4 linked regions of the Homo sapiens genome follow. The protein of the gene in region 1 interacts with the protein of each later gene in a biochemical or structural test. Each region holds a gene or a part of one and is shown in the gene's direction. Other genes may lie near its edges.

Region 1 (6,540 bases):
TCTGGCTGCTTTCAAGATTTTTTTCTTCAGTTTTCATAAATTTAATTATAACCTGTCTTAGAGTGTTTTTTGAAGGGGTTTATCCTGTTTGGAGCTTGTTCAGCTTCTTGAATCCTGGTTGATGTAGCTTGTTAAATTTGGGATATATTTGGAGGTCATTTCTGTGAATACTTTTTAAGCCCTGCTCTTTCTTCACTCCTTGCAGAACTCCAGTGCCATGACATCATTTTTTATAGTCCTACGGGTCCTTGAGACTTTGCGCTTTTTTTTTCCCCAGTGTATTTTTTTGTTGTTCAGATTGGGTAATTTCTGTTGTTCTTTCAGTTCACTGACTCTTTTCTTTGTCCCTTCCATTCTGCTATGGAAAGCCCATCCATTGAACTTTTTATTTTGGTTGTATCTTTCAGTTCTAAACTTTATGTCTTCCATTTCATTGTTGAGCCTTTATGTTTTCTCTTTATGTTTCAAAAGTATTTATAATTGCCCATCGAAGCATCTTTATTAGGTGCTTTAAAATCTTTCTCTTCTCAGTGTTGGCATCTATGATTGTCTTTTTTTTTCATTCAGTTTGAGATCTTTCTGTTTATTGGTATGAAGAGTTTTATAATATCATGTCCATGGTTCTAAGTTGGACCATGTTCTTAGCCAAGGCCTAGATTTTGAATTAGAATACAATCATACTATACATATGCAACAATATTCCCTGTGGCTGAAGGGGAGAGAGAAAAAAGGTTTTAGATGTTGGGGGCTGTATTAGTCTGTTTTCATGCCACTGACAAAGACATAACCGAGATTGGGAAAACAAAGAGGTTTAATTGGACTTACAGTTCCACATGGCTGGGGAGGCCTCAGAATCACGGAGGGAGGCAGAAGGCACTTCTTACATGGCAGCGGCAAGAGAAAAATGAGGAAGAAGCAAAAGTGGAAACGCTGATAAACCCATCAGGTCTTGTGAGACACAATCACTATCATAAGAATAGCACAGGAAAGACTGGCCCCCCATGATTCAATTACCTCCCCCTGGGTCCCTCCCATAACACGTGGGAATTCTGTTAAGATACAATTCAAGTTGAGATTTGGGTGAGGACACAGCCAAACCATATCAGGGGCTCTTCTGCCTGTTGTATCACTCACTGAGTTTGTGCCTGCAAATGGATATAATTATGCCTGAAACAGCGCATATTGTATATCTGGTACAGGTTTTGTTTTTTTTCCCAAGTTTTGCCAAACACTAAAGTAGAAAGCATAGTTCATATGACTATTCTATGGACATCTTTAGTGCTTTTATGAGCATTTTTGATGAAGAAATTGAAAGACTAATTGGAGGCCACAATTAAGCATTGACTAATACTAAGTTAGGAGAACCAATAAAATCTGTGATTTTACAAAGTCAGGTACCATATGTTCATGGAAGTTGTATATGAATGATTATACATGTGCGTGCATGTATATGTATTGTACGTATCTGTGCCTGTTTCTTGCTATATATGTTGTACTCAAATTACATTTGCGGTCTTTCTTTTTGCATTAGATTCTGCATATACAGACTCATGAAAAATTCATCAGAGATAGTCAAGAAAAACCAAAACCTGTACCTGATAAGGAAAATAAAAAACTGCTCTGCAGAAAGTGCAAAGCCTTGGCATGTTACACAGCTGACGTAAGAGTGATAGAGGTAAGCTGCCTTTTTACAAAGTGCCTGGTCATGTTTTAGCACTAGCTACAGCTTACTGTTGGTGAAATATTTATAATAAAACTACTATTATTTCCATTGTTACTGTGGCCATGATCTGTGTATTTAAAAAAAGCTAAGAAGTGAAAAAAAAATACTAAATGTTCAATAATAAAGAAATAGTTTTTGGCCAGGCATAGTGGCTCATGCCTGTAATCAAAACACTTTGGGAGGCCAAGGTGGGCGATCACGAGGTCAGGAGTTCGAGACCAGCCCGGCCAACATGGTGAAACCCCGTCTCTACTAAAAATAAAAAAGTTAGCTGGGCGTAGTGGCAGGTGGCTGTAATCTTAGTTACTCGGGAGGCTGAGGCAGGAGAATCGCTTGAACCGGGAGGCAGAGGTTGCGGTGAGCTGATATCGCGCCACTGCGCTCCAGCCTGGGTGACAGAGCAAGACTCTGTCTCAAAAAAAAAAAAAAAAAAGTCATGCTAAATGCAATGACGTGTCCTGGATTAGCTCCTGGAACAGATAAAGGATACAACTAGAGAAAGAGTGGTAAAATCTGTAGTTTAGATAATAGTAATGTACTGATGTTAATTATCTTGGTTTTGACAAATGTGCTGTGGTATATGAGATGTTAACATTTGGGGAAACTGGGTAAAGGGTATGCAGAAATTTTCTGGGATATCTTTGCAATTTTTCTTTAAATCTAAAATTGTTCCAAAGTAAAGTTTATTTTAAAAAATTATGAAGTTTATGTAGTATAATGAAAAACTGCTTACAAACTAATGGTAATAAGGAAAAAAGTAACCAGAACACAGAATTGTAAAGATGCTACTTTGTAGCTGTGTGAAACAACAGCAGCAAATACATTCATTGTCATTGTCAAGAGAAAAAGTCAAAAAACCTACCTTGCTACAGAAAAACAAAGGCTAGGGGAACTATACCAAAATGTATTAATATTTTGGTGGTGAGATTCCATGACTTTTTTTCTCTTTTCCTACTACCTTATGTTTTCCAAACATTCCTTTTGGGCTATGGATCACTTTTATAATGAAAACAAAATATCTCCTTATTTGTAAAATGTGACATCTGCAGATTAGCCTTCTATTGCAGCCTTATATTTCTTTCTTAAAACTTTCAGAGAAAGGGTTAGAAAAATCTCCAAAGAGAAATATGGGGTATAACTCTTGCATGGGGGGCACAGTGGAGGGGCTGGGCTGGCTCAGATGAGGAGTTATTACTTCAGGATGTTCCGTTCGTCTTCAGAAAGCAGAAATCTCTCATCAGCTCAGCTGTTTGGGCAAAAAGCCTATTAGGAGTCATATTGCTAAGTTCCCTTACCTTTCTAAGTCTGCTTCTTTAGCTGTAAAAGGTCCTTTCAGCTCCAATTTGGGTGATTGTTCTACTAAAAATGGCCCTTTTAGACCCTATGTTTTCCTGAGGGACTAGTATGTTGGATCTGCATTTGTTTCTGAGCTGTTTACTCTAAAGTTGACTCTAGGTGGGGCCTGTGGACACATTAGTCCCTGACCTTCTTCAATTGCATCTTGACCTTGGTCGTTTTCCCTGTATCCTTTGGATTGTGCCTGCCAGGGCCACTGGTGAACTTCAGCTTCACAAATTTTCAGCAAACATCGCTTCTGTTTTTGAATAATGAGTATCTACCTTCAGAAGCTGGGTTACCTGGAACCTTCTTAATCTTCTTCTTTATGAGGTGCCCAGTGTCCTCACTTGCAACCCCACCCTGCCTGTAGAGGGGAGTCAGGTGCATGGATCCTCTGGACTTTGGGTGAATCTATTTTTTTTTTTCCTCCAATTGTAAAATAAGTGAGACCCACCTGTTCTTTGCCTCAGATTATTGTGGGGTTTTCTTTTTTTTTTTTTTAAATCACAATTATGTACTGGTTCTAACGTTCTCTTTTGTGTGTTATTCCATCCCTTCATCTGTAGGAATGCCATTACACTGTGCTTGGAGATGCTTTTAAGGAATGCTTTGTGAGTAGACCACATCCCAAGCCAAAGCAGTTTTCAAGTTTTGAAAAAAGAGCAAAGATATTCTGTGCCCGACAGAACTGCAGCCATGACTGGGGAATCCATGTGAAGTACAAGACATTTGAGATTCCAGTTATAAAAATTGAAAGTTTTGTGGTGGAGGATATTGCAACTGGAGTTCAGACACTGTACTCGAAGTGGAAGGACTTTCATTTTGAGAAGATACCATTTGATCCAGCAGAAATGTCCAAATGATATCAGGTCCTCAATCTTCAGCTACAGGGAATGAGTAACTTTGAGTGGAGAAGAAACAAACATAGTGGGTATAATCATGGATCGCTTGTACCCCTGTGAAAATATATTTTTTAAAAATATCTTTAGCAGTTTGTACTATATTATATATGCAAAGCACAAATGAGTGAATCACAGCACTGAGTATTTTGTAGGCCAACAGAGCTCATAGTACTTGGGAAAAATTAAAAAGCCTCATTTCTAGCCTTCTTTTTAGAGTCAACTGCCAACAAACACACAGTAATCACTCTGTACACACTGGGATAGATGAATGAATGGAATGTTGGGAATTTTTATCTCCCTTTGTCTCCTTAACCTACTGTAAACTGGCTTTTGCCCTTAACAATCTACTGAAATTGTTCTTTTGAAGGTTACCAGTGACTCTGGTTGCCAAATCCACTGGGCACTTCTTAACCTTCTATTTGACCTCTGCGCATTTGGCCCTGTTGAGCACTCTTCTTGAAGCTCTCCCTGGGCTTCTCTCTCTTCTAGTTCTATTCTAGTCTTTTTTTATTGAGTCCTCCTCTTTGCTGATCCCTTCCAAGGGTTCAATATATATACATGTATATACTGTACATATGTATATGTAACTAATATACATACATACAGGTATGTATATGTAATGGTTATATGTACTCATGTTCCTGGTGTAGCAACGTGTGGTATGGCTACACAGAGAACATGAGAACATAAAGCCATTTTTATGCTTACTACTAAAAGCTGTCCACTGTAGAGTTGCTGTATGTAGCAATGTGTATCCACTCTACAGTGGTCAGCTTTTAGTAGAGAGCATAAAAATGATAAAATACTTCTTGAAAACTTAGTTTACTATACATCTTGCCCTATTAATATGTTCTCTTAACGTGTGCCATTGTTCTCTTTGACCATTTTCCTATAATGATGTTGATGTTCAACACCTGGACTGAATGTCTGTTCTCAGATCCCTTGGATGTTACAGATGAGGCAGTCTGACTGTCCTTTCTACTTGAAAGATTAGAATATGTATCCAAATGGCATTCACGTGTCACTTAGCAAGGTTTGCTGATGCTTCAAAGAGCTTAGTTTGCGGTTTCCTGGACGTGGAAACAAGTATCTGAGTTCCCTGGAGATCAACGGGATGAGGTGTTACAGCTGCCTCCCTCTTCATGCAATCTGGTGAGCAGTGGTGCAGGCGGGGAGCCAGAGAAACTTGCCAGTTATATAACTTCTCTTTGGCTTTTCTTCATCTGTAAAACAAGGATAATACTGAACTGTAAGGGTTAGTGGAGAGTTTTTAATTAAAAGAATGTGTGAAAAGTACATGACACAGTAGTTGCTTGATAATAGTTACTAGTAGTAGTATTCTTACTAAGACCCAATACAAATGGATTATTTAAACCAAGTTTATGAGTTGGTTTTTTTTCATTTTCTATTTGTATTTTATTAAGAGTGTCTTTTCTTATGTGATTTTTTTTAATTGCTATTTGATATGGTTTGGCTATATGTCCCCACCCAAATCTCATCTTGAATTATAATCCCCATGTGTCAAGGGAGGGACCTGACGGGAGGTGATTGGATCACGGGGGCAGTTGTCCCCATGCTGTTCTTGGGATAGTGAGTTAGTTCTCATGAGATCTGATGGTTTTATAAGTGTTTGACAATTCCTCCTTTACACACACTCTCTCTCTCATCTGCTGCCATGTAAGACTTGCCTGCTTCCCCTTCTGCCATGATTGTAAGTTTCCTGAGGCCTCCTCAGCCATGTGGAACTGTGAATCTATTAAGCCTCTTTTCTTTATAAATGACCCAGTCTCAGGCAGTTCTTTATAGCAGTGTGAAAACAGACTAATACACTATTGTTTAAGAACTCCAATAGGATGTGTAAAACATCTACTAGAAATAGATTTAATAAGATAAAAGTTATTATTATTATTTTTTTTTCTGAGATGGAGTCTCACTCTGTTGCCCAGGTTGGAGTGTAGTGGTGTGATCTCGGCTCACTGCAACCTCTGCCTTCTAGGTTCAAGTGATTCTCCTGCCTCAGCCTCCCACATAGCTGGGTACAGGCACCCACCACCACACCCGGCTAAATTTTTTTATTTTTAGTAGAGTCGGGGTTTCACCATGTTGGCCAGGCTGGTCTTGAACTCCTGACCTCAAGTGATCCACTTGCCTCGGCCTCCCACAGTGTTGGGATTACAGGCGTGAGTCACCATGCCTGGCCAAGAAAAGTTCTTTTAAGTATGTAAATGATTCAATTTGGATGAAGGTGAATAGCCCTATTCAGCCAACTGAGGCAGGCAGACTGAAGTGAAAATAAATAAGGAGAACTTAGCATTTCCTTGTTTGACTTTTAATGGAATAATGTCATTGCCAGGCATGGACTCAAACAAAGTAGGCACTTGGTTAATATGTATTGAATGAAAGAAATGAGCAGGTAGGCTTTTAGGAAGTGGATCTTTTGACTGACTCCCAAATGCTGGTCATTGCATTTCTAGAACAAAGGCCACATTTTAGAAACAACTGGGGAGTCTTTTTCATGGACACATGCCCAGCCCCATTAGAGCATCCTGGCAGGGTGTCCAGCCGTGTATGTTTTGA
Region 2 (8,145 bases), on another chromosome or scaffold:
GTAGTTTGTTTATTACTAAATTTGTTTAAATGATGTTTGACATATTAGTGTGTTATGCTGTCATAATAGCAGAGTTTAATTCTGTTTATGACATTATTTTCTTCCTTTCTCCTACTCTTGTTTGACTTTATGATCCAGCTTTATTTTTTTTTTTTTAACTTCTTTCAATTAACGAGCACACATTGTGTGGAAGGTGCAGAAAGTACACCCACAAAGTCCCTGCTATGAAGAGCTTGCAGCTGGATAGGGAAGCAGCTGTGTGCTCGAATTTCAGAGCAAAGTGCATTTCTTTCTGTTAATGCTCTTCTAAGCAATGAGGCAGAGTTGTACGGCTTTTAATGTTCAAAAGAGACTTAGCCACCATCCCTAACACTGGGAAAATGTCTGGGCAGAGGGGAGAGCCTACGGGACCATTGAGATCTGGTGGGAACAAAGAATAGTTGTGTAATTGACTATGGTGGGAAGCTCATTTTAATAGCAGACTGGGACTAGTAGAAGATGTTGATAGAGTTGGCTTACGGCAAGAAGGTCAGCCTGAGTTCTGAATGAGTGAAGGTGAACATGGGAGGCAAAAAGTTTGAGAAATGGGAGGGTGAAAGGTGGTTCACCTTAAATGTGCCCACAGAGAAAGGTGGGAAGATGAGTGTATGCCGTTTATCCTCAGTAGGCTGTTTATGCTGTTTACATCGAAGGCAGAGGAGGTTAGAAAAGGAGAAAAGTTCTCTTCATGCTCTGAGCGTGGCCTGGCTGTGAAATAGTTTCAGTAATTCTCAATCTGGTTACTGATTTACAAAGTTGACTGAATATGTGATTGTTTTCCAGGTTGTGCTAGAATACTGATGGAGGGAATACAGAGGCAAATCTTGAAAAAAATTAGAGTGGGTTCAGAAGAAATTATATATTGGGCAAGTAATATTTCAGTATAAATGAGATTATATGTTTGGAAACTCCTAGTAACCTCCGAAGGGCAAAGTCAGTGTATTTGACAATACAACTCTCTGTGTGTATGTGTTCATGTACTTCCTCATAATCATTGAAAATCTTCCAGATCCCCTTCTAGCTCAGGCCCTCCTCATATCTTTTGGGTACTAGTTCAGCTTCTGCAGATTCAGGGACAAATTGCAATAATAGAATATACTTCAGTCTTGCTGTTGAGATAGTAAGAAATCATTATGAGGAGTCATCAAGGTAATCAGCAATTCGGAAATTTCTCACACCTGTTATAATGTGTCAAACCATATCTTCATGTTCATGGTTTAGCAATATGTGCTGTTGACAACATGAAATAAGTGAATTTAATTATAGAACTTAAAATGTAATATGTAAGACATTTAAAAAGCACAGGAAATAGAAAAACCCATGAACCTACCACCCACATCAAATGTTAATATTTTGCCTTATTGTGTATCTTTTCTCTTTTTGCTTTTGAAGCAGAATGGCTCATGCAGCTAAGGCACTCATGCCCCTCTTCGTCTCTCTGGAGAGAGAACTACTGTTTGGAGTTAAGTTTGTGTCAGTGCCATATTATTAAAAAAATTTTTTTTAACCATAGGTATATCTATCTACAAACTATATTTTAATGTTTAATGTTCTGCTGACTGAAGTTAAGAAATATTTTTAAAATTATTGTAGTTCTTCACATGATTCTCCACATGGAAAAATGTAATAATTTCATAATTTTTAATTTTAGTTAGCATGGTATTAGAAACATAGAAAACATATTTTTGGCGTAACGTTCTGACCTAATAACATAAATTGAAGTGGCTTTTAAGCTTTTTGTAATCTATAGAATGATGTGTGTTTTACATTTTGACCTAGTACCTATCATCTCTGTATGTATATATTTCTGTGATGTTTATATATAATACGGGAAAAGTTTCCCCAAACTAGTTTCCTGTACTGTGTGTGATTTATACTAGTCCCTTCGTATTTGTGGGGTGGGGTGTAGAGGTGGTTCCAAGACCTCACATGGATACTAAAAATCTATGGATACTTCAGCCCCTAATATAAAATGGGGTAGTATTTGCATATAATTCATACATATTCTACTGTATACTTCACATTGTCTGTAGATTACTTATACTACCTAATACCGTTCATTTAGGAAACAATGATAAGAAAAAATGTCTGTATGTATTCAGTACAGCCACATTTTTTTTTCCTGAATATTTTTTATTTGTGGTTGATTTAATCCATGAATCCAAAACTCAGGGCTATGAGAGCCAACTGTCCTCTGTTATTCTCTAGACTATTGACTTTTAAAATGCCTTTCTCAGGCTTAGTAAATTGATTTTTTGACCTAATAATAGATTGCCACCCATAATTTGAAAATCATTAAGAGTAATCTTAAATTTGATCTAATCATAATTAATCTAAAATTAAGACTGACTTTTAATATATAAGCACAAGCTTTTCCAGTATAATAAAGGTGTTTTAAATGATAGGTCAATACATTAAAATAACATTCTTTACACAAGATTTGATTATATTTATTTTAGCTAATTCATTAATTTTTGTAAATTAAGTCCGTGTATGTCTTACCCATTTAAAAATTAGATATTAATTAATTGAAGTGTTTTAGAGAATATGCGATGGTTAATGTAGAATATTTTCTTTCTGTCTATTCTTACCATGATTTACCTGGAGGGAAGGAGGGCCATCATTGTGTCAGGGAAGGGGAAGGAGCTCTTGAGCTCTTGCTGGCTTAGATGTTGACCCCCAAGCCCTGTCACCAGTGAACTCTGTACAGCCTTAGAAAACCCCTTCTTCCTTCTGGCTTTCAGTTTCCTCACTTATTAAATGAGGGTGTTATCTAGCTCATCTTGAAACTACTTTTATTCTGTGAAACATAAGGTAACTAGGACCTGGGCTTCAAGATATTAGAATCGGTTGAGAATATGAAAAGCTGATGAAAAAGAACAGGGCTTTCTGTTCGAATTACTGGTTTTGCTGTTATGTTTGAGCGAGGATTAAGCAGGTTGTATCCAGTTGAATATAGTTCTTGGGCAAGAATTATTCCTCCATTATAAAACCATTTCAAAATAATCTTGACCTCCCCAAGATCTCCCTCCCTTTTTGTGGCATTATCCCTCAGTCGTGAAGGACACAACTAATGTTGAGTGTATATGTGAACATACATAAGTGCAAAGAACGGCAAAGGAACGTTTTTCATTCTGTTTCAGTTAAGTGTCCTCATAGGCAAATCCAAAGCTTCGGAAAGAAATCTATCACTTTTCCTAAGCCCTGGGGAATGTTTCATGAGTCCTACTCAATTGCAGTAATCTGAGGCTTTGGGGAATTTCCTTTTTTTAACATGAATTACATGCTTGGAATAGAGTGAGAACATATCACCTAAACTACACGTCCTTAAAACAGCACTTTACATGATGAATCCTTCATGTTTTGTCTGTTTGTATGTTTACGAAGCAGGAGTTTAAATTGCAGCTTGGGGTAAACATGGATACCATTGTTTACCCCAAACCATTTCTTCAAGACCATTTCTTCCCATTTTGCTTCTGAGAAGACAGGTCAGGAAATGCCCTTGCCTGGCTCTTCAGGTGGAGGCAGAGTTGGGGCAGATTCCTGGTTTCCTTCAGGGTTCCCATTTTCTTTTGGTTTGTAGATTATTTTGGGGCAGCCCAAGGTTTAGAGGGACCTAGAGACCTAGTTCTAACTCATGTCCCTGGGGATTGACCCACTGAAGAATGTTTAAGAAATTAAGAATTTTTAAAGTAGAGCTCTGCCCCTACCTGAGGGACTAGTGAAAATATATTTTTTCTTGAAAGACGCCAGGGTAGACATAAATTGCTGGGAGAGGATCGTCTGAACCACAGGGAAGCATAGATTAGATTTCTTTTAACACCTCTAATTATGCAGTAACTCAGTTCTCTCTCAGTAGCAATATGCAAAGCATGACTGATACGTCTGTTATTTCAGCAGCACTTAACCCTCCATTTATAGAAGTGGATTGGAATTTCTAGACCTCTGGAATCTGATTCTGTAAATGTTCTCACCTCAGGCCAGGGGCCAAGGCTAACCAGTATTTTGTGACACCCTGTGCTTGGCACTAAGCAGGCACTATAGATTTTTGTGACTAAAGACTGCATACTTAACTAGTCACTATTTTATGCATTGAGAATTATAAAGTGTGTCATTCTGAAATATTAGAATTGATTTTTTTTAAAGTAAAAAAAAAAAATCCTTTCCTTTGTATGTTAAAGTATTACTAATGAGCCTTCCTGTCTGTTTTTCCTCCATCTACTCTAGTATGCCGAGATTTTGCTGTCCTGGAGGACCACACCCTGGCTCACAGCCTGCAGGAACAAGAGAGTGAGTAATACCTCTCATTTATGCTCCTTCAGTTTTCTTTTTTTAGTGGTAGCTTGAGGCTGGTTTCTTAGGGCTTAGGTGGGGAGAGAGCACAGTCACTTGGCTTCACCATCCATACATCCTGAAGGATTTCTTTAGGCAAATGATGCCTGGGTGATCAGTGAAGTTTCGGGCATGTTAAGTAAGATAGGCTGCCAGGAATTAGTAGACTGCTGCGTCTGTAGGAGGAAAAAGAGAGGTTTGAACCTTTTTCCTAGCCTCTTGTTGTAGGAGGGACACAATGGTTGTAGATTTATCTGGGGTGCGTAGAAGGAATCTATTCTTGCTCCTAGGATAGGGACTTGAACAGTTTTCCCAGGCAACTGTGGTATAAATGAGATCACATTGTGAATTTTTCTGAATCTTTTTTTCCATGTGGTGATGAAAAGTAAATCTAAGCTATGCATGTTATATTAAAGTACATACTTGTGAATATATGATTTGTGAATTCACATATCAATATAAAATTGACATTTTGAAAAATGCGGTTAATAAATAGAGTGACAACATGTAGTAGTAGAAAGAGCATTGGCCCTGGCTTTAGAATATTTGTGTAGATGTCCTGGCACTGCCACTTTGTTGCCGTGTGACCAAAGGCAAATTATTTAATCTTTTTGATCCTCTTTTTACTTAATGGAAAAGTGGGGATAATAATTCCTTGCTCTTTATTATATATTGTTGTTGAGACAATAAAATGAAGTGATGGATGCAAAGCTGTTGTTATGGTAAAGCTCTTAAGATTATTATGGCATTTATTACTAACAAACCAAGACATTATTCATTCCTGTCCTCAATCTTTTTGTTCCAGTTGAGCATCATTTGGCATCGAACGTTCAGCGGAACCGTTTGGTCCAGCATGATCTCCAGGTGGCTAAGCAGCTCCAAGAGGAAGATCTGAAAGCGCAGGCCCAGCTCCAGAAGCGCTACAAAGACCTGTGAGGATTTGGGAGGTGGGAGGGGTGATGCAAGACTGGTTTTCTCTGTGGAGCTAGCAACCAGGGCAGGGGAGAAGGAGACTACTTCTGTTCCTCTGATTCCTTCTACTGTTAGATTACAAATCTTACCCTGGATGTCTAACAGTTTTTTTGATTTGAAAATGTTTTGTTTTTGTTGGAGCACTTGACCAGGTTTAAGGACATGTTGATGATGGTGTGAATTTTAACATTTTTTAGCTGTTATGACCTTGGGCCAGTTAGTCAACTTCTCTGAATTTATTTTCCTTACCCATAACATGCGGATAATAATCTCTGTCCCCTCTGCCTCATAGTTTCTTTGGGGGATCCAGTGAAATAGTGGACATCAAATAACTTTATGGGTTGTATTGGTTCCTTTACTATGTTCTAGCTGTGTTTGCCGCTCTTACTTTCCTTGCTTTTCAGTACATAGCAGAATGTTCTGAAAAGCTCTGAAGTGTAGACTCAGTTTTTTTCATAACTTCAGTGTCTGACAAAAGTTCTCTCTAGTAGCCTCCTTTAACACACAGATAAACGGAAATGATTATTTCTCAGGTTTCTTTTGGCACAGTGACTTTTATTCTGTTTCAGTGTTATAAAGCTCCCAGGATACATTTCTTCTTTGAGAGTGGCTCTTACATCCTAAATCTTTAATGTGGGTAGATTTAACCACAGATACTGTGTTGAGGAGGAAGGGGTAAAGGAAAAATGGAAGGAACCCCTTAATTTACTTCAGTGTCATATTCAGGTAAAAAGGAAAGCCAGTCATTTTTGCTAACTTATAGGAAGGGTTTGTCTTTCTGTTTATTATTTGTAGAGAGGACTTTATTAATCATTTTGTTAAGCTTCCCTTATTTTGTAAATAAACACTTTTATTGATTCATGCTAAATCTGGCACCATGAAAGGAGACCAGAGATATGAATAAGACAGCTGTTGCCTTTAAGGGCCTCAGGAAAACACCTTGAGCATTGTGTATCTAGAGATACGTGCATGAGTCACAGAGAATTGAAATGTAAATTTCAGGCCTATTTAGAGAGAAGAGACTGGGAAAAGCTTCACAAGACGATGTGTTTAATCTGAAACTTGAAGGTTAATTAGAAGTTTATAGTGATGGGGAAAACCATTCTAGCCAGAAGGAGCAGCATGCATAAGGGCAGGAGGTAAGAGGACTTGGAATCAATCTCACGTTAGCTGCAAGAAGTTCAGTGTTGCTGGAGTGGAGAGTGTATTTACAGGCAGAAGTAGGAAGTGAGGCCAGGAAAGTAGTCAAAAGCTGGATCAAAAGGGTCACGATAAGTTATGTTAAAGATTTCAGGTTTTGTAGATTTTAAATTATAAGGAATGGAGAACCTTTGAAGTAGTTTCAGATTTTCATTTTGGGATCTATTCTGTAGACTAGGTGGGTAAAGGCTTGGAGTGGGCAAGATTTGAAGGCAGCTGTTGAGCAATGGTCAAATTAAGAGATGGTGAGGCTTGAATGAGGACAGTGGTGACAGAGAGGAAGGAGATGATGAGGCCTAAATTGAAGGTCATGGTAATGGAGATGTAAAGAGGAGGAGAGATATTTGAGATGTTATGAGGCTCAGTGTCACAGGTTAAGGTGAGAACCAAAGCTAGAATGTTCTAGAGTTCTAAATTCATTGCCCTTTACATTATTCACAATTCTCTGTTAGAAAGGCCAGTTCTGAGGTTGATGCAGATGTTTAAAATCCTGAATTAGGTTAATAACAGTATAATGAGCTTTTTCAGAAATTATCAAGACAAACCACTCAAATATAAATCAGGAGTAGAGAGTGATATTTTATAGGTCCTAAAGGAGAGAAGAACCGGGTATTATATTTCTGCCTGAGACTTCAAGGTTTTGAAATTGTTCCTGGATGAAATAAGTAAGCTAGAAGGGAAGTCTTTCAGTTCACTCCCTGGCAATTTTAATAGCTGTACATCTTGGGAAGGATGAAATGCTGCAGTTTTCATTGAACTGGAACCTTTTATTCAGTCTGGATACCCGGGCTGCCGTAAGTCAGGATTACCGCTTGTTTACTACTGCTTTCTCAGTTTCGCTTTCCCAGGAGTCTGTATAATTAGCTGACTGAACCAGAGATGGTACTTCTTGGAAATATGGTTTGAAATCATTAAACTCAGATGAAGCTTCACTTATTTATTTTCTGTACCAGGAGATACATCTTCTGTGTCACTTGTGACCTTTAACACTTCATTTGGGTTTGCCTTCTCTACGGTGCTTCTACTTTCTTCCCACTTATTATCACATCCAATGTAGTTATTAGTCAATTAATTCTATACAGATTTTACATTAATTTGGGAGGTTCAGGTAGAGGCTTGAATGAAGACAGAGGCTTTTGAAAACTAAGTCCGTGATTTTGTGTATGATTCTTAATTATTACAATGAGTGAAGGAAAAGAAGAAATATAAATAGCAATTGGTCTGAGTAGATTTTTGTTTATTTTCATTTCTTTGGTTTGAATAGATAAGAATACTATGATATTAGACCTGTAATGTGAAGTTACTAAGTGTACACTTTTTTATAGCTTATAACATGGCATGACAGAGAATGATTTGTGGTTATTAGTGGTAGAGGCAGGACCGTCAAACAGGCCCCAGTGGGGTGAAGTGATAGGTGGTATAGAAGAGGTGTGGAGTTTTCCATTGTTGGGTGTGATGATCAGATTCCAGTTCTACCACATATTTTCGTTGTGATCTTGAGAAAATGATGCAACTTCCCTGGACCTTAGTTTTCTCATCTGTAAATGTGACCGTGTCAGCCTCTTTGCATCTTTATCTTGAAGATAAAGTGAGAAAAATAAT
Region 3 (8,191 bases), on another chromosome or scaffold:
GGAACTTTGGCTTCTCCTGTGTAATACTGCAAAATCATTGACATGACCATGTGCATGAGGGGTGAAACCTTACCTCTTTTGATAAAAGACCAGTTACTGATTGTGTAAATTTGTGCAATTATTTAACATTCTTTGAACTTTAGTTCTCTCACCAGTAAAATGGAGATGATAATATCCACCTCCAAGGTTTTGTTTTTGTTTTTGTTTTTTTGTTTTTGCATTGGTAGGGGGGAAGGATTAAAGAAGAAATAAAAACCATAGTATTTATTGGGTCCCAACAAGTTGCCACAGTATCAGACACCTAGTTGGGACCCAATAACATGTAAGTTTCCGTTCTCAAATAGTTGAGGTCCTTTCTCTGAATACTTAGGGGACCATATCATATAATTATTGCTGTAATCACTTTAAAAAGGAGCACTTCCAACAACATTCAGTGGACAAATTTTTTAAGATCTGCTATTGCTGAACTAGGTGCTGAAAATCCTCAGATGAAAAAAAAAAAACAAAACACCTATTCCCAAGACAGACTGAAATGTGAACAGAAAATAACAGCACCATGTGAGAAGTGTGCTTGGGTGAGTGACGGAGGGCTTCCCGGAAGAGGCTATGTGCTTCATGGGGAAGGAGTAGGAGCAGACCAAGTAGAAGGGGACCAGACAGGGGAGGACACGGAGGTATGAGGAAGCACAATTTCTATGAGGGGACTATTTGAAATACTTCTGTAACAGTTAAAAAAAAAAAAGTTATAATAAAAGGGAGGGGCCAGGTACCTGTGAGAGCAGTGGGTTTTGGATTTTTTCCAAAAGGTGGGGAACCACTGAAGAATTCCAGCAGGGAGATGATGTGAAAGGGGTAAATGGGAAGTAGTGGGGAGAATGACACCACCAGTATTCCTGAGTGGGGAAGTGAGAGCTGGGTGGTTGGAGCCCACACCCACCCCTCTCCATTTATTTAGTCATTCAACAAATAGTTACTGAGGGCCTGCCACCTACCAGGCTGTATTCCAGGGGCTGGAAATCAGGCAACCAACAGCACTGGCAAGATCTTTGTTCTCATGGAGACTGACAATAGATAAGCAAGTAAACATGCAAGGAAATATTAGATAGGTGCCACTAGGAAAATTAAACCAGGCAACAGAAGAGTCTCTGAGCGGCAGCGGCCCATTCCCTGCCCCCAACACTTACCAAGCCTCCTCTTGATATAACTTTGGTTTCCCAAGGAGGCGTTGCTCCTAGAACAATCTCTATGGTAAATATTAATAATTAAGCCATCTCTCGGAGTGTTTCCAATGAGCCTTCCCTGGGTGAGGATAGTCAGAGCTAGTTTTCCCCAGGGCCTGGTCTGCCTTGTAATTGTTGGTTAAGGACCATCAATTCTGCCAAAAGTCCTAAGTTTAAGGTTTTAGGAAAATCGCGGCAACCTTGAGACCTTTCCTGAAGTGGTTCCCCTGCAATATATGACCTTGCCCTCCCCTCACTACCGACCCCACTTCCATGTATATACACAATTATCCTTTAGGAGAGAAACATTTGATAGTACGGTTGCAATTTTGCATTCCTCCCCTTTGAAAAATGCAAACTTTTAGAACAGGCCCGCCGCTTCGGGCAGGTTTTGCCGCGGAAACCACCCTCCCTCCCCGCCCCCGGATGTCCAGAGGGCTGGGTGGGGAATCCCGGGAGCAGCGCACTCAAGAGCACGGGAGCTGGAGGCTGGAGGCTGGCTCGTCACCATCAGGGCTCCCTGGGATGTAAGTCAGAGCTCCTCAGTGCCAGAGGGATGCGGGCCAAGAATAAAAACGCGAATGTTGTATTAAATGCAGCTGAAGAAACGAGGGACTGAAAAGGCAGATTTCCCAGTGTGCCTCATGGTCTTCCCCCATTTGACTCATTTACTCACTGCGGGTTTCTTTTTCTCCACTCTTTTCTTATTATGGAAACTTTCAAAGACACAGGAAAGTTCACTATTTTAGGGAAATCTAGCAAACGCCCCAGGAGGGCCTCTCTGATTTTGCCCAACTTCTCTGGACTGCCTGATAGAGCTTGCCCTCTGGGGACTATCACAATCGGGACTAAATTAGGGCCCCTGCTCCCAAGGGTTTTTATTCTAGCTGGGGAGAGAAGTCACTAATGGAAACTTTTTTTTCCCTTAAAATAGCTTACACCTTACAAAGCACTTTCACATTCCTGATTCCGTTAAAATCATAAAGCTAGAACTGAAAGGAAATTTAGAGATCATCTCTAGGGGTCAAATATTGGCAAATATTGGGCCACCTGCTAGGCTCTTGCCCATGGTAGACATGGCTAACATACCGCACACTCACCCGTTCATGTCATGTATTCACTTACTTATCAGACATCCTCCATGTTCTACATTGCATGTTAGAAATAAAGCAGAAAACCAGACAGACTTGTTTGCTACCTTATGGACAAACAAGAGGAAGAGAGACATTAAACAAATAATTACACGCATGAAGAGTGTTTTTAGGCCGGGCGCGGTGACTCATGCCCGTAATCCTAGCACTTTGGGAGGCCTAGGCGGGAGGATCTCTTGAGCCCAGGATTTCGAGACCAGCCTGGGCAATATAGGAGACACTGTTTTTTTTTTTGTTTTGTTTTTTGTTTTAAGTGTTTTTAAAAGCCGGTGTTGGGGCAGACAAGGACATCACACACTGGGAGGTACCCTGCGGGTGGGAAAGGGTCGGGAAAGACTCCCTCAGGAAGTGATGTTTAAACTGAAGTCTAGGGGATTAGGAAACGGAGTCTCTGAGAGGGTGAAGAAATATTACATACCAGTATGAAGCATGGCCTGAGTGAGGTCATGCTCCAGGGCCGAACAAGGGGTTATGGATGCTAAGTGGGGGTGGGTGTCCGGAGGAAACAGAAGGTTGGTGGAGCAAGGCCTTAAAGACAAATAGGTTGACATGGAGAGATGGGTGGAAGAACTTGAGCCAAGGGCAGATATTATTGTTTCTCCTCCTCCCGCTTCCCAGGGAAGCAGCTCTCATCTAGTGTCAGTAAAAACAAATACAAAGTTATAATTTATTGGCCACCTAGTATGTGGTGGCAATTTTCATGAATTCTCACATGTTCCTTGCGAGACAAGTATTCTTCTTCCAGTTTTACAGATCTAGAAAAGGCTTGGAACGGCTAGAGACGCTTGCTAAGCCTGGCCGTCAAGTAGGCAGCAGAGCTAAGATTTGAAAGCATGCCGGCCTGCCTTCCTAGGCAGACGCACTTTCCACAACGCATCACTGCCATAAAAATCCCAGGCCGAGGCTTGCTCTAACAGCAAATACCACTTGGAAAAGGACAGATCTTTGAGGACCCAGAAATACTTCTGGGGAAAGGATGAGCAGAGGTGCCCCCGGTGGGTGGATACCATTAGGCAGAGGTCTATGCGGAAGAGGCCGACTTGTGGCGTGGGAGGTAGGGAGGAGTAAGAAGTGATTGACGGGGCGTCCCTGGCTGCTCTAGGACTGCATTGCGGGGAGGTGCCCGGCTCTAACCACTGCCCGGCCCGGTTAATCATTTCCTGACCTTCCTTCCTCCTCTCGCTCTGGCCGCAGGATTGCCACATCAGTCTTCCCCCTCCTCCTGCTCGCCTTCTGGCCCCGAGGCTCCTTCGCCGGGTTTTACAAGGAGCCCCAACTTGGAAGCAATATTTGTAATAGCCCCGGACGTCCTCAAGTGCCCCAGTGAGATCGCAGGCTCGATCCAGGGTATGCCGGCCCAAGCGGCCCCTTGAGGCTTGCCCTCTTCTCTAATCCCTCACTAAAAAGAGGTCAGAGGGTCAGGGATCCAATCTCCATACAGATCAACAAGTTACAGACTCGGTTTCCCCCTGCGGTAAAAAGGGGATGGTAACAGCTGGTAGGGTGTTGCGAGGCTTAAATGCGGTATGGGAAGTGCCTGGCTGGGAGACCTTAGGTATCTAACAAATGCTAGATCCCTTCCCTTCTTATCGCCTGGTAATGGGGAGTTTAGCTTGCCCAGCAATCCCAGGCTACGTTTATCTCACTTGAACTTCCTGGCTTGAAAGTCCTACGATGTGCTGGAGGTAACGCAGATGGTGAGTCACAGTGACAGGATTTGAACGTGGGTTCATGGGCGCCCCTGCGGGCCCACCCACGCAGCATCTAGGTGGCTGGCTAACGCCACGTGTTCAGAACCTAGAAAGGGCTACGGATCGCACCTGCCGCAAGGAGCCTAACGCTAAGTCGGGCGGGACTGCCCTGGCACCCATGAAACCCGCTGCCCGCCTCCCCCGGGGCCAGGCCCTTGGCCTCCCCAGCTTGTTTCTTCGTGTATAAAATGAGGGCCACGGTGCCTGTCTGCCCGAGAGGTTTTAAAGTTCTTCTTTACACTTTGCGGAGCGGCCGGATTTTTACCACGAAGCCACCGAGTAGTCCGCACCACATAGGTTCAGTATCCTCCGCCCACCGCAGGAAACGCCGCGGACGGCCCGGGGTGCCCTGCTCGGCGCCCCACCCTTCCCGGGGCCGGGGAAGCGGCGTGACTAGGAAAGTCACTTCGGAACACAGCCGGACTCTGCGCCACCAGCTGGAGCTCGCCGGGACCCCACCCCGCGGGCTGGGCGGGGGCGGACCCGGGGGCGGGGCGGGGAGGGGCCGGCCTGGAAAGGCGGAAGCCTCCAGTCTAGGGGTGGCTGCAGAACCCGGATCTCGGAGTTACACGTTCTACGGAGCGGGGCGCCGGGAGACGGCGGGCGAGAAAACCCGGCGTCCGGAAGCCCGTGCTTTCTTTGACGCAAGGGCTCGAGACGCAGCCGCCGTCGGCCGAGCGCCCGGCTAGAAGCGACACCAGACGGAGCCTCCGGAGTTCCTCCGCCCCCACCTCGCCGGGTCCTGGAGCCGCAGTCCTCCCAGCTGCCCTCCTCGTGGCCATGGAGTGTCCACACCTGAGCTCCAGCGTCTGCATTGCTCCGGACTCAGCCAAGTTCCCCAACGGCTCCCCGTCGTCCTGGTGCTGCAGCGGTGAGTGCGGCCACGGGCCGGCCCCGCAGCGCACCCGAGGCCGCGGCTCTGCCGGGCCTGCCGTCTAGGGGCCGCAGGCGGCCGGCGCGCGGACTCGGGGAGGGGCGAGGGCGAGCCGGGCCCGGCGGGCTGGGGAGGGTACGCGATGAGGCGGGCGCGTGCGGGAGCGGCGGCGGCTCCTTTGTTTCCCGAGGCCCGACGGCCGGGCCAGCGAAGGAGAGGGCCGCGAGGGGCGGGAGTCCGCGGAGGCCTCGAGCGCGTGGGGGCAGCGGCAGGCGGGGACCCTGGCCAGCTGCGTGCGCCCTTGCCCCGCCCTGCCGTGGCCGGGGGCTGTGCCCGTCCGTGTTGCGGGGTCGCCTGTGGGGCGGGTGTCCGGCCCCCGAGGGGCGGCCGCACGTGTGGCGGGGCCCGCGCCGCGCTTCTCCGCAGACAGGGCGGGAAGAGCGCCGCTCTCCGGGCGCAGCTTTGTCTGGGCTGCGGGGCGCGCGGGGCTCCTCTCCTCCGCCGAACCCGGCCCGGGTTTCCTTTCCCTTCTCCGCAGGCTCGGGCACCTCGAAACCCCGAGAGGCGCTGGGAGCTCGGGCGGCGGAGGTCGGGGTCTTTCATCCGTCAGGGATGGTGAAGTTTGAAAACAGGCTGCGGGCTGAGAAGCTCGGAGGCTGAGCCAACAGCTGCTTTGGAGGGGACTGCTCGAGTTTGTTTTTCAGACCTTTTGGGTTGTCCGAAAATGCGTTGGGATTCCCAGTTCCTGTGTTGTGAAACACTTATTAGATTTATATAAGGCTTTTGAGTAGCTTAAGCGTTTTAACTCCTGCTGGCCCCCTTGGAAGCCCCAGTGCCCTCTCATTGTCTGCTCTAAGCGACTTCTTAGGATCGCACCGGCCACACGGCTTTGCTTACTTCCTGGTAGGGCCCTGGTGCCACCGCTAGTCTTTGTTTATTAGCTTTGAGATGGTCACTGGTATCTTGGGTTATATTAATAGCGTACAATTCGAATTGTGCACTTCAGAAATCTGAAGTTCATTTGAAGAAATATAGAAAAACGGCAATGGTATGATTTAGCTGTGACATGTCTCATTGTGGGCCGGAGCTGGGAAGATAGTTTAGAGAATGCCTTAGCACTTTTGACAGCTTACTACTTAAATAGTGATTATGTTCTTGGAAACAACATCGGTAGGTCCACAAAGAAAAATGTACTCTGGGATAAGGAATAGAAATAACTGCGGTTTCCTGGCGCGCTCAGACGTCTGATGCTTTGCTTGCCTTTGTAAAGTCAGGTATCTTTTTCTGCATGAAGCCTTTGAAAATTAACGGTTAATTGGTTTCACAGAGCAGTATTGCAGTTCTTTTGTGAGGATGCAGAAACTTGTGTAAATTAGCTTTTACCTGTAAATCTGTCGGGATGTTGAGTATAGAACAACAAATAAGGTGTATGGCACTGCTTTACAAATTGGTTGGTGGTGGTACATTAGCTATAACTGTAGCCATTGCTGTGGTGCTATAATTGTAACTTAATTTTTTTCCCAAAAGAAATTTGAAGAAAAAAAAAAAGACCAAAGTAAACACTAGGAGAAGCCTACCTCACAGGGAATGGTGGGATTGCTCTTGCTCATCTGTAGTAAACTACAGAAAGACAACATGGACAATTAGCACACTTCTGGCATTTTTTAGGTAAAATCACATCAAACTTAAAAATGGCTTCACTGGGCACATACATCTAAAAAATGGAAAAGAACTGTGCAAGTGGCAGATGCCCTCTTGTGAGTCAGTCTTGCCTCTGTCAGTCAGGGAGTCCACTTGACTGTGAAAAAGAGATGCAGGAAATTGAGCATCTCTTGAGGAACTTAATAAGTTAAAATGGAGCATAACGAGATGTGCTGATAACAAGAATAAACTAGTATGTGGGGTGATTTCTGTTCAAGGGGTAGGATGACATCTTTGCATCTTGCAACAAAGTGTGTCTGACATATAGCTTTGCAAGCCTGGGTCTAGTCACTTACTTGGATTTGTAGAACCAATAAAGCGAGTTTCGCAACTTTGTGTGAGTCCACACTCTGAATTGAACCCATTTTATGTAGGCCTCCCGTCTTAACCCGTTGGCATCCATTTGTTGATATAATCTAGCGTTATTGTATTAAGCTTGATCTTGTTCTTGCGTGCCTGTCGTTTCAGTGATTAAATGATGAATCTGTGAGTCCTTAACTAACTCATTATCTTGGAGTGTTATATAGTCGTATTTTTTTTCTCCCACACTCTTGATTTTATTTTATTTTTGTTTTTTTCATAGGGGACCAAAAGGGTAGCCGATGTGTTGACTAATACTGTGACTGGGTATTGAATCTGATTATGTTCTTATTAAGGAGGGGAAAATCCCTGTTTTGGCACTGGGACAATAAAAGTAATGCCCTTGCCTTATTTTCTTTGCGAGTTTGCAATTATACCACGGTAAGACAGCCAAGCAAATTGCAAAATGCCACAACATTCTAGGTTCTACCAGTTAGCAGTACCTAATTGGACAAATAGTTCTATTTTCTTTGAGTATCAGTTTCCTTATATAATCTGCAAAGAAAAGGGTAATACTTTGCATTTACTTCACAGGTTGCTGTTAGGATGAACAAGGTAATTTTTTGTGAAAACTTTGAGAAACTTGTATACACTGTTCTAGTAATAGGTGGTATTAGAGGTCAGAACATCTTTGTAAAGAGGACTCTGAATAATTAAATATCCAAAGCCCATTAAATGGGGACTAGAACAGACTGGCTTTATGCTGAATGATGCTTTACAGGGAGATACAGAACTCAACAAGATTACAAGAAGTAAGAAGTAATTATACTTCAGAATTAGCATGAGCTTCTTATCCATGGAAGGCACTGTGTGTTGGGTTATATAATTGTGTATGACAGTGGTTCTTACACTTTTTGATCTTAGGACCCCTTTACACTCTTAAAAATTGTTGAGCACCTGAAGAGCCTTCGTGTAGCTTATATCTGTTGATGATGTTTATTAGAAATTAAAACTGAGAAAAACTTAAAATATGTATTTATTAATATGCTTACAAATAATAATAGACCCACACCCATAACATAAATTGACAGTTTATGTAAAATGTTTTTCAAAACAAAAATTTAGTGGGAAGAATGGCATTATTTTGCCTTTTTGTAACTCTTTGTTCAGCTTTATAGAAGACAGCTGGATTCT
Region 4 (9,006 bases), on another chromosome or scaffold:
AGATAGGGGTGGTCAGTAAAAGGTGGTCTTCTCCTCTCCTTCACTTTTTTCTCAAATCTCCACTCTCATTCATACATGAGATGGTTCAGCTGTGGCCAGACTGTTGGCTTCGTTCCAGAAAGCAAAACGTAGCAGGACTATGCGGAATTCCTGGGAAACCAGGTACGCCTGAACTCCATAGCCTTTGTTTCCTCCCAGCCTCTGCTGACACTTAGGAAAAGCATCAGAGCATTCCCTAAAGAAATACTTTAATTAATAAAAGCCCCTGGCACCATCCCAGAACTGCCCCAGCTTCTGGAGAGACAAAGTGTTTTCCTCCTTAGTCACACCAATGCCTTTTTCTCTGATTGCACTTTCCACGTGGTTTTCGAGCTGACAGGAAGGGTGGGAAATTGCTGCTTTGCTTTCCTGGAGAACCACAGACTAGGACCTGGGGGCATTGCTGGGTAGATTATGAACACCTTTGGCCAAGAGTTGCATCGATCCCCTAAAAAAACCTAGGTACTGGCCAGGCGCGGTGGCTCATGCCTATAATCCCAGCATTTTGGGAGGCCGAGGCAGGCGGATCACCTGAGGTCGGGAGTTCGAGACCAGCCTAACCAACATACGAAAAATACAAAATTAGCCAGGCGTGGTGGTGCATGCCTGTAATCCCAGCTACTCAGGAGGCTGAGGCAGGCGAATCACTTGAACCCGGTAGGCGGAGGTTGCGGTGAGCCGAGATTGCGCCATTGCACTCCAGCCCTGGGCAACAAGAGCAAAACTCTGTCTCAAAAAAAAAAAAAAAAAAAAATTCCTGTTACTGAGACTTCTAGGGTATCTGGACAGAAGAAGGCTAGATCTTCCAAGAATAAAAATTGCAGCCGGGGAGACAGAGCAAGATCCTGTCTCAAAAAAAAAATAAAAAGAAAACGCGAAGGCTTCATTTGCCCAATATACAATGCACGACTCTCAACACCTTCAAAGAATTACATGCCCCTCCCATGAAAACGCTTCTTTTTTTTTTTTTTTTTTTTTTTTGAGACGGAGTCTTGCTCTGTCGCCCAGGCTGGAGTGCAGTGGCGCGATCTCGGCTCACTGCAAGCTCCGCCTCCTGGCTTCACGCCATTCTCCTGCCTCAGCCTCCCAAGTGGCTGGGACTACAGGCGCCCGCCACCACGCCCAACTAATTTTTTGTATTTTTAGTAGAGACAGCATTTCACTGTGTTAGCCAGGATGGTCTCGATCTCCTGACCTCGTGATCCGCCTGCCTCGGCCTCCCAAAGTGCTGGGATTACAGGCGTGAGCCACCGTGCCTGGCCTGAAAATGCTTCTTATACAAAATTTAAAAGTTTGGGAAAATATTGTCACAATTTGTCTAATTCTGAAACATGACATGTTTACTTGGGGTTATTTATCGTTTTTTTGGTGGGAGGGCAGGGAACTGGGTCTCACCCTGTCACCCAGGCTGGAGTGCAGTGGCACAATCTCAGCTCACTGCAACCTCTGCCTCCCAGGCTCAAGCCATCCTCCTGCCTCAGCTTCCTGAATAGCTGGGACTACAAGTGCACTCCACTATGCCCAGCTAATTTTTGTACTTTTTGTAGAGATGGGGTTTTGCCATGTTACCCAGGCTGGTCTTGAACTCCTGAGCTCAAGTGATCTGCCTACCTTGGCCTCCCAAAGTGCTGGGATTACAGGCATGAGCCATGGCCCCCAGCCATTTATCATTTTTTACAACCATCCATGGTTACCATTCTCTGCTACATTATCGGGTCACACTTGGAGGCCCATGAAAGAGGGTGTCTTACTAAAGATGAAAGGAGGTGATTCAGGCCTTTTCCCCCATGCACCTCCACAGAATTGACTGCTTCTCTCCAGAGTGTTTCTCTAATGTTCACAAGGCCTTAAAATGAGGGGGCTCACGGAGTGTCTAAGAGGAAGCTGGAGTCAGGCAGTGGGAATAAAAAGAATCCCTTGACTCCTCAGAAGCTTTCCTAGGCCAGGCACGGTGGCTCCTGCCTGTAATCCCAGCACTTTGGGAGGCCAAGGCTGAGGGATTGCCTGAGTTCAAGAGTTTGAGACCAGCCTGGGCAACATGGCGAAACCCCAGAAAATTAGCCAGGCATGGTAGTATGCGCCTGTAGTCCCAGCTGGTCGGGAGGCTGAGGTGGGAGGATCGCTTGAGCCTGGGAGGTGGAAGTTGCAGTGAGCCGAGATGTCACCACTGCACCACTGGGTGACAGAGCAAGACCCTGTATAAAAAAATTAATTAATTTTAAAAAAAAGTTTTTCCGGAAGTTTAGTATTATTTTTTCCCTTTCCATGGAAGATTTTAAAACATATTTCTTTCTTTTCTTTTCTTTTGTCTTGCTCTGTTGCTCAGGCTAGTGTCTAGTGGCACAATCATAGCTCACTGCAGCCTTGAACACCTCAGCCTCTGGAGTAGCTGGGACTACAGGCATGTGCCGCCATGCCCAGCTGATGTTTATTTTTTGTAGAGATGGGGTCTTGCTATGTTGTCCAGGCTGGTCTCCAACTCCTGGCTCAAGCTCCTTCACCTCAACCTCTCAAAGTGCTGAGGTGTGAGCTACCACACCCATCCTAGAAACATATTTCTACCTCATATTTATCAAGTAGCTTTGAATATATGGCCCATCATCTTCTTTACTGTTTCAGTTTCTTCCTCAATAAACCAAACTAGTCTTCCTGACTCATGTGGAGCTGAGTCACCTGGTGGTGAGGGTGGAGGAGTGAGAGATCTAAATTTGGTTGACATGGTGTGAGAAATCAGCTTATCTTTCATAGAACCCTTCAGTCCAGGAAAATGCTGGGACTGAACCAATCATTTCAAAGATGCCCAGAACCAAAGCCCTTCTACCAACATATAACTCCCAATGTCAGCCATCAGTTGAGGTCCTGTGGCCACACTGGCCAGGAGGGACGAAGGGAGGAGAGTGTGAAGGGATACAGCAGTTTTTCGAAATTGGAGTCCTTAAGTGCCTCTGGAGATCTTATTGAATGCTTAAAATATCAGGCTTAAAATATAAATTGTTGCACCTGTAATCCTAGCTGCTCAGGAGGCTGAGGCAGGAGAATCACTTGAACCTGGGAGGCGAAGGCTGCAGTGAGCTGAGATCAAGCCACTGCACTCCAGCCTGGGCGACACAGAGCAAGACTCCGTTTCAAAAAAAGAAGAATTTCCATCATTCCTACCTTTAAGGGTGTTTTCCTTCCAAGAACCTCTAGTCCAAAGGCGAGTGGGACGGGAGGTGTTCCTCACTTCCCATCAATTTTCCCTTCAAAGGCTCTCCTTCTTTCACAGTCTGGCGCTGGAGGCAGTTAGCAGGAGAGCCTTAATAAAATTAGGATTACCCATCACATCTCTCCCCCGAGCCAATGAATAGAAAGAACAATAGTTACCATTATGCACACTTTTTTTTTTAAAGACTTTATTTTTCAGCGTAGTTTTAGGTTCACAGCAAAATTGAGAAGAAGGTACAGAGTTCTGATACACCCCCAGCCCCACACATGTATAGCCTCCCCCATTAATCCTAGCACTTGGGAGGCTGAAGCAGGCAGATAGCCTGAGCTCATGAGTTTGTGACCAGCCTGGGCAACGTGGCTAAACCCAGTCTCTACAAAAAAAAAAAAAAAAAAAAAATTAGCCGGGCATAGTGGTGAGTGCCTGTAGTGCCAGCTACTCAGGAGGCTGAGGTGGGAGGATGGCTTGAACCCAGGAGGTGGAGGTTGTAGTGAGCCAAGATCATGCAACTGCATTCAAACCTGGGCAACAGAACCAGACCTTGTCTCTAAATAAATAAAAACAACAACAAAAAAGAATATACACAGCCTATGTTCAAGGAAGAGTAACAACAAAAAGCTTCATGGCTGATGAATAGTGTGTGGTGAAGGGGAGTATTTGAGTATGAGGAAGACTGAAACAAATAAGGCTAGACTGAAACACTTTATTTTAATAGTTTTTTCTTTTTTCTTTTTGAAACAGAGTAGTCTCATTCTGTCGCCCAGGCTGGAGTGCAGTGGCACAATCACAGCTCACTGCAGCTGCATCCTCGACTTCTCGAACTCCAGTGATTCTCCCACCTCAGCCACCAGAGTAGCTGGGACCGCAGGTGCGCACCACCAGGCCCAGCTAATTTTTGTATTTTTTTTACAGGTGGCTTCACCATGTTGCCCAGGATGGTCTCAAACTCTTGAGCTCAAGCAATCTGCCCGCCTCAGCCTCCCGAAGTTTTGAGATTATAGGAGTGAGTCTAGACTGAAACATTTTGAATGCCACACTCTAGTTTACAGAACTTTATTCAGTAAACACTGGAGACCAACAAACGTTATCAAGCAAAGAAATGTTCAGATTTACATTTTACAGAGATAATTGTGACCAGAAGGGATGGACTTGAGAGTGAAATCAGAGCACTGTTTCTTTCAATAGCCGCATGAGAATTTGAGGGGTGGGGAAGACAAGGCACATTAAAATGAAAATTTCTGGGTCCACCCTTTATTGAATCAGAATCTCTGGGTTCAAGGCCTGGGAATCTGCATGTTACATCTCAAACATAGGAGTGATTCTTGTAGGCTCTGAAGTCTGAGCTATAGACTAGAATCAGAATGGCCAGTTAGGAAGCTTTTGCAATTATCCAATTAAGAAATGAAATGTCCTGGGTGCCATGGCTCATGCCTGTAATCCCAGCAATCTGGGAGGCTCAGGCGGGAGGATCACTTGAGTCCAGGAGTTCGAGACCAGCCTGAGCAACATAGTGAGGCCACTCATCTATACAAAACAATTAAAAAGTAGCTGGGCTTGGTGGCAGGCACCTGTGGTCCCAGTTTCTTGGGAGGCTAAGGTGGCAGGACTGCTTGGGCCCAGAAGTTGGAGGCTGCAGTAAGCTATTATTGCACCGCTGCACTCCAGCTGAGTGACAGAGCAAGACTCTAACTCAAAAAAGAAAAAGAGGGCCGGGAGCGGTGGCTCACGCCTATAATCCCAGCACTTTGGAAGGCTGAAGCAGGAGGATCACTTGAGGCCAGGAGTTCGAGAACAGCCTGTCCAACATGGCGAAACCCCGTCGCTATTAAAAATACAAAAATTATCTGGGCATGGTGGTAAGCGCCTGTAATCCCAGCTACTCAGGAGGCTGAGGCAGGAGAATCACCTGAACCCGAGAGGCAGAGGTTGCAGTGAGCTGAGATCGCGCCGCTGCACTCCAGCCTTGGCGATAGAGGCAGACTCTGCCTCCAAATACATAAGTAAATAAATAACAGATCTGTAGGCGGAAAACAATGTGGCAGTAATTGTTCCTTTGCCTTGGTGTCCCTGGGCAAAAGGCAGGCCCCCACTCCGGGGCATCGCTCGTCGCCGCTCCATTCTCTGCAGACCGAAGTTTCCCCAGGCCTGGGAAGACTAAGTGGGAGGCGCCCACCGTGCGAAGATCCTCCCGGCTTCCAGGGAAGGGAGGCTGGGCCTGCAAATAATAGCCGGGGGCAGGAGAAAGGCTCCGATTGGTCGGAGGGAGGGTGACGAACAAGGGGCGGAGTTTTCCTGGGGACTGGTGGGGGAAGTAAAAGGGAGGGGGTGTGCACCGCCGGGTGTCAGTTTCGGAACCCCAGCCAGCTCACCTCTGCGCCGCTGAACCCGATCCGAGCCTCCGGCAAAGGTTTTTCCCTCCTCCCCCGGCCGAGGGCTTCTGCAGCCCGGGCACCCCCGCCCCGCGGCGCCCCACATTCCCCCAGCCCGGGGCCCTTGGCGCGTGCGCTCCGTGCGGCTGTGCTCCGCGGGACTTTGTTTGTTTCCTCCTCGTCCCTCTTTGTTGGGCTGAACACCAGCCTCGTCAAAGCCCCCCACTCCGGAGGGAGTTCGGCTTCTCCAGCAGGGCGGCTGCAGCGCGCTGCCCCGACCCCGCCTGCGGCCCCTCACGCCGCTAGTGCTCCCACCCCGCCCTCCTGGCACCCCGCCTGCGTCCGTTCGCCCGAGGAAGCCAACCGCGACTTCATTGATGCACCCATTCCAGTGGTGTAACGGTGAGTCCCCGGGGCGAGGGCCGAGCCTACGTGGGGCTGGTGGGAGCCGCGGCGCGGGGTGCGAGGTCGGACAGCAGCGCGCTGGTCCTCCCTCGGGAACCAAGTTTCTCCTGAAATGGGACAGTCGAGAAGGCGTCTTGGCGCCCCACTCTGCTCTGCACAGCGCGGAATTTGAAACTATCCAGGTTTCACTCCAGAGCCTGGAAGGGGCCTCCGGACTGGCGGCGGGCCGGGGGCGTGGGAGCCGAGGGGTTCCCGGCCTTTGTGTGGCGGCCCGGCTCTTCTACCCCCTTCCCCTGCCTTTGTGCGCTCAAACTCTGTTCTTTGTTGTGGTTGTTGGAGGAGAATTAAATCCGCACTCGGGCTGGGATCTCCTAGAGGGAGCTCAAGTTCCCGGCCTGAAACTTTGCAGGCTATTGTAAATATGTATACCGTGCAGCGTGCGGGACTGGGCGCGGGGGTAGCTTCCTCTGGCTTTGTTGGTTTCCCACGGGCTGCTGGCGTGGCTTGGGTGCTTGCGGAAGACTGGATTAAAGAGTCGCTTTCGGCCAGGCGCGGTGGCTCACGCCTGTAATCCCAGCACTTTGGGAGGCCGAGGCGGGCGGATCACCTGAAGTCGGGAGTTCGAGACCAGCCTAACCAACATGGAGAAACTCCGTCTCTACTAAAAATACAAAATTAGCCGGGAGTGGTGGCGCATGCCTGTAAGCCCAGCTACTTGGGAGGCTGAGGCAGGAGAATCGCTTGAACCCAGGAGGCGGAGATTGCAGTGAGCCTAGATCGTGCCATTACACTCCAGCCTGGGCAACAAGAGCGAAACTCCATCTAAAAAAAAGCCGTTTTCCTGAGTTGATAAACCCTCGCAGAGAGCTCCGCGCCCGGCTGTCCCTGGGGTGCGAGGCTGGCCTGGCGGGAGCCGTGTTTCTGGCCACAAGGCCAGATTAGGGTGTCTGCTCCTGAGCCCAAGTGAAGGCCACACCTCCAGACGCGACAACCCCTCGCCCCATTTCTCCCCAGGCCTGGGTGATGCTTCTAAGTTAGTTCATTTCACCTGAGGCTTTTTGGAGGTTCAGGTGATACTGGGTTAGGCTGGAGTCTGATTCCTCAGCGAGCTACCTGAAAGGTAGGTGTTTCTGAGCGGGACACTTCAAAACCTTGGATACTAATCGCCCCCCACCCCACCCGCTCCAGTCCTCCTGGGGTCCTAGTCTTGACCGCGTTGTTCCGATGCTTGGAGAGTTTCTGGGAGAGAGAGATGGGAAGCAGCTGGCCTTATCTCTCAGTATGGCAAGCGAGCTAGTTACAGGGGGAAAAAAATCATTCTTTAGAGTAGACTCCTGCCAGATCTTGGATTAATTATGTCAAGAGGCTTTGTTTTGAGGCAGGGTTTGGGTAGCATGTATACCCCACATCCCCCCACCCCGCCTTCCTCCTTTTGCTGGTCGGATCTCATTTCCTGAAAATGAACCAAGCCGTGTGTGATAGGCGGTTTTGTGGGAGAGGGGGCAGAGGATGGGGGTTGAGGAAGGCCCTTGCACCCTAGCATCTGGGAAAGATTCCCGTTGGCTGGGAAAGAGAAGCAGTTCCCAGATCCCCTGGTCTTTCTTGGCCAGCCCTTGTCTGACGTCATTCCTGCTCCCAGCCTGCCAGATGAGATGAGACATTCTGATGTCAGTGCTTTCATAGGTTGGCCGAGACAATGGAACAGAGACTTAGGGAGAAATGAGGCAGCTGTCAGTAACACTGCCCTTTCTGGGCAGCGCCCTTTCATATCAGATTTTAGACTTGCTGCTTTATTTTTTTTATTTTTTATTTTTTATTTTTTTGAGACTGAGTTTCGCTCTTGTTGTCCAGGCTGGAGTGCAATGGTGTGATCTCGGCTCACCACAACCTCCGCCTCCCGGGTTCAAGCGGTTCTCCTGCCTCAGCTTCCCGAGTACCTGGGATTACAGGCATGTGCCACCATGGCCGGCTAATTTTGTATTTTTAGTAGAGAGGGGGTTTCTCCATGTTGTTCAGACTGGTCTTGAACTTTTGACCTCAGGTGATCTGCCCACCTCAGCCTCCCAAAGTGCTGGGATTACAGGCGTGAGCCACTGCGCCCAGCCTACTTTAATTTTTTTTTTGAGAGAGGGTCTCACTCCGACAACCATGCTGGAGTGCAGTGGCACGATCAGGGCTCACTGCGGCCTCCAACTCCCAGGCTGAAGGGATCCTCCTGCCTCAGCCTCCCAGCATAGCTGGAACCACAGGTGTGTGCAACCATACCTGGCTACTGGCTAATTTTTAATTAATTAATTAATTAATCTACTTTTTGGGGATAGGGTTTCACTACATTGCCTATGCTGGTCTTGAACTCCTGGGCTCAAGCAGTCCTCCCACCACGGACTCTCAAAATGCTGGAATTACCTGCAGGAGCCACCTTGTCTGGCCCTCTTTGCACTTCTTAGAAAAGTGACTGAGAGATCCTGTCCTTTGACTCCTGTGAAGAAGCAACCCTTCCCTCACCCCTTCAGAAACTACCTGGAGCCCCTCTTTCCTGGGGCTGGTATTCTCTGTCCTTATACAGTTTTAAAGAAAAACTTACTACAGTGTCAGCTTTTGACCAGTAGACTATTTTGCCATTTCTTTAATAGTAACACAAGCAAATGAACCATCTCCTCTTGACTATGCTCTTCCCACCGACCTCTTTATCACGTGAAATACCAAGCTCACTGATTCAATCAGTGGGAGATAAAGGGGAAGCCTTTATCAGGCAGGATAAGTTGGTGGGGATAAACTGATCAGAGGACTTGCGGGGACCATCGTGCTTGTGGAGTGCACAGATATCCTCTGTAATAGCTCTGACCAGGTTCTGCAAGTTCCCAGAACTGGAAACCAAAGGAGGTTTCAGCTCATAAAAGGTGCCTGGAAGAACTAAGGAAACGGGGGGTTAGACCCTCTTGTAACATCAAATAGTGCGGGGGAAGGAGGTGAGAAAACAGCTGGGAG

What was found.
Region 2: the proteins of RIGI (region 1) and CCDC50 form a complex in vitro, tested with the Homo sapiens proteins (one study listed by BioGRID).
Region 3: of the proteins of RIGI (region 1) and USP3, one has a biochemical effect on the other in vitro, tested with the Homo sapiens proteins (one study listed by BioGRID).
Region 4: the proteins of RIGI (region 1) and RNF122 form a complex in vitro, tested with the Homo sapiens proteins (one study listed by BioGRID).

The regions. Positions count from the first base shown.
Region 1 is NC_000009.12:32,454,506-32,461,045, reverse strand, and holds the end of RIGI (antiviral innate immune response receptor RIG-I), read left to right. Parts: exon of another isoform or gene 1-1,531; coding exon 1,532-1,675; exon of another isoform or gene 1,676-2,004; intron 2,005-3,627; coding exon 3,628-3,924; 3' UTR 3,925-5,744; downstream 5,745-6,540.
Region 2 is NC_000003.12:191,352,822-191,360,966, forward strand, and holds part of CCDC50 (coiled-coil domain-containing protein 50 long isoform), read left to right. Parts: intron 1-4,266; coding exon 4,267-4,329; intron 4,330-5,176; coding exon 5,177-5,303; intron 5,304-8,145.
Region 3 is NC_000015.10:63,499,838-63,508,028, forward strand, and holds the start of USP3 (ubiquitin carboxyl-terminal hydrolase 3), read left to right. Parts: upstream 1-4,755; 5' UTR 4,756-4,902; coding exon 4,903-4,993; intron 4,994-5,880; exon of another isoform or gene 5,881-5,899; intron 5,900-8,191. UniProt on the Homo sapiens protein: Deubiquitinase that plays a role in several cellular processes including transcriptional regulation, cell cycle progression or innate immunity.
Region 4 is NC_000008.11:33,563,708-33,572,713, reverse strand, and holds the start of RNF122 (RING finger protein 122), read left to right. Parts: upstream 1-5,585; 5' UTR 5,586-5,990; coding exon 5,991-6,015; intron 6,016-6,808; exon of another isoform or gene 6,809-7,138; intron 7,139-9,006. UniProt on the Homo sapiens protein: May induce necrosis and apoptosis. May play a role in cell viability.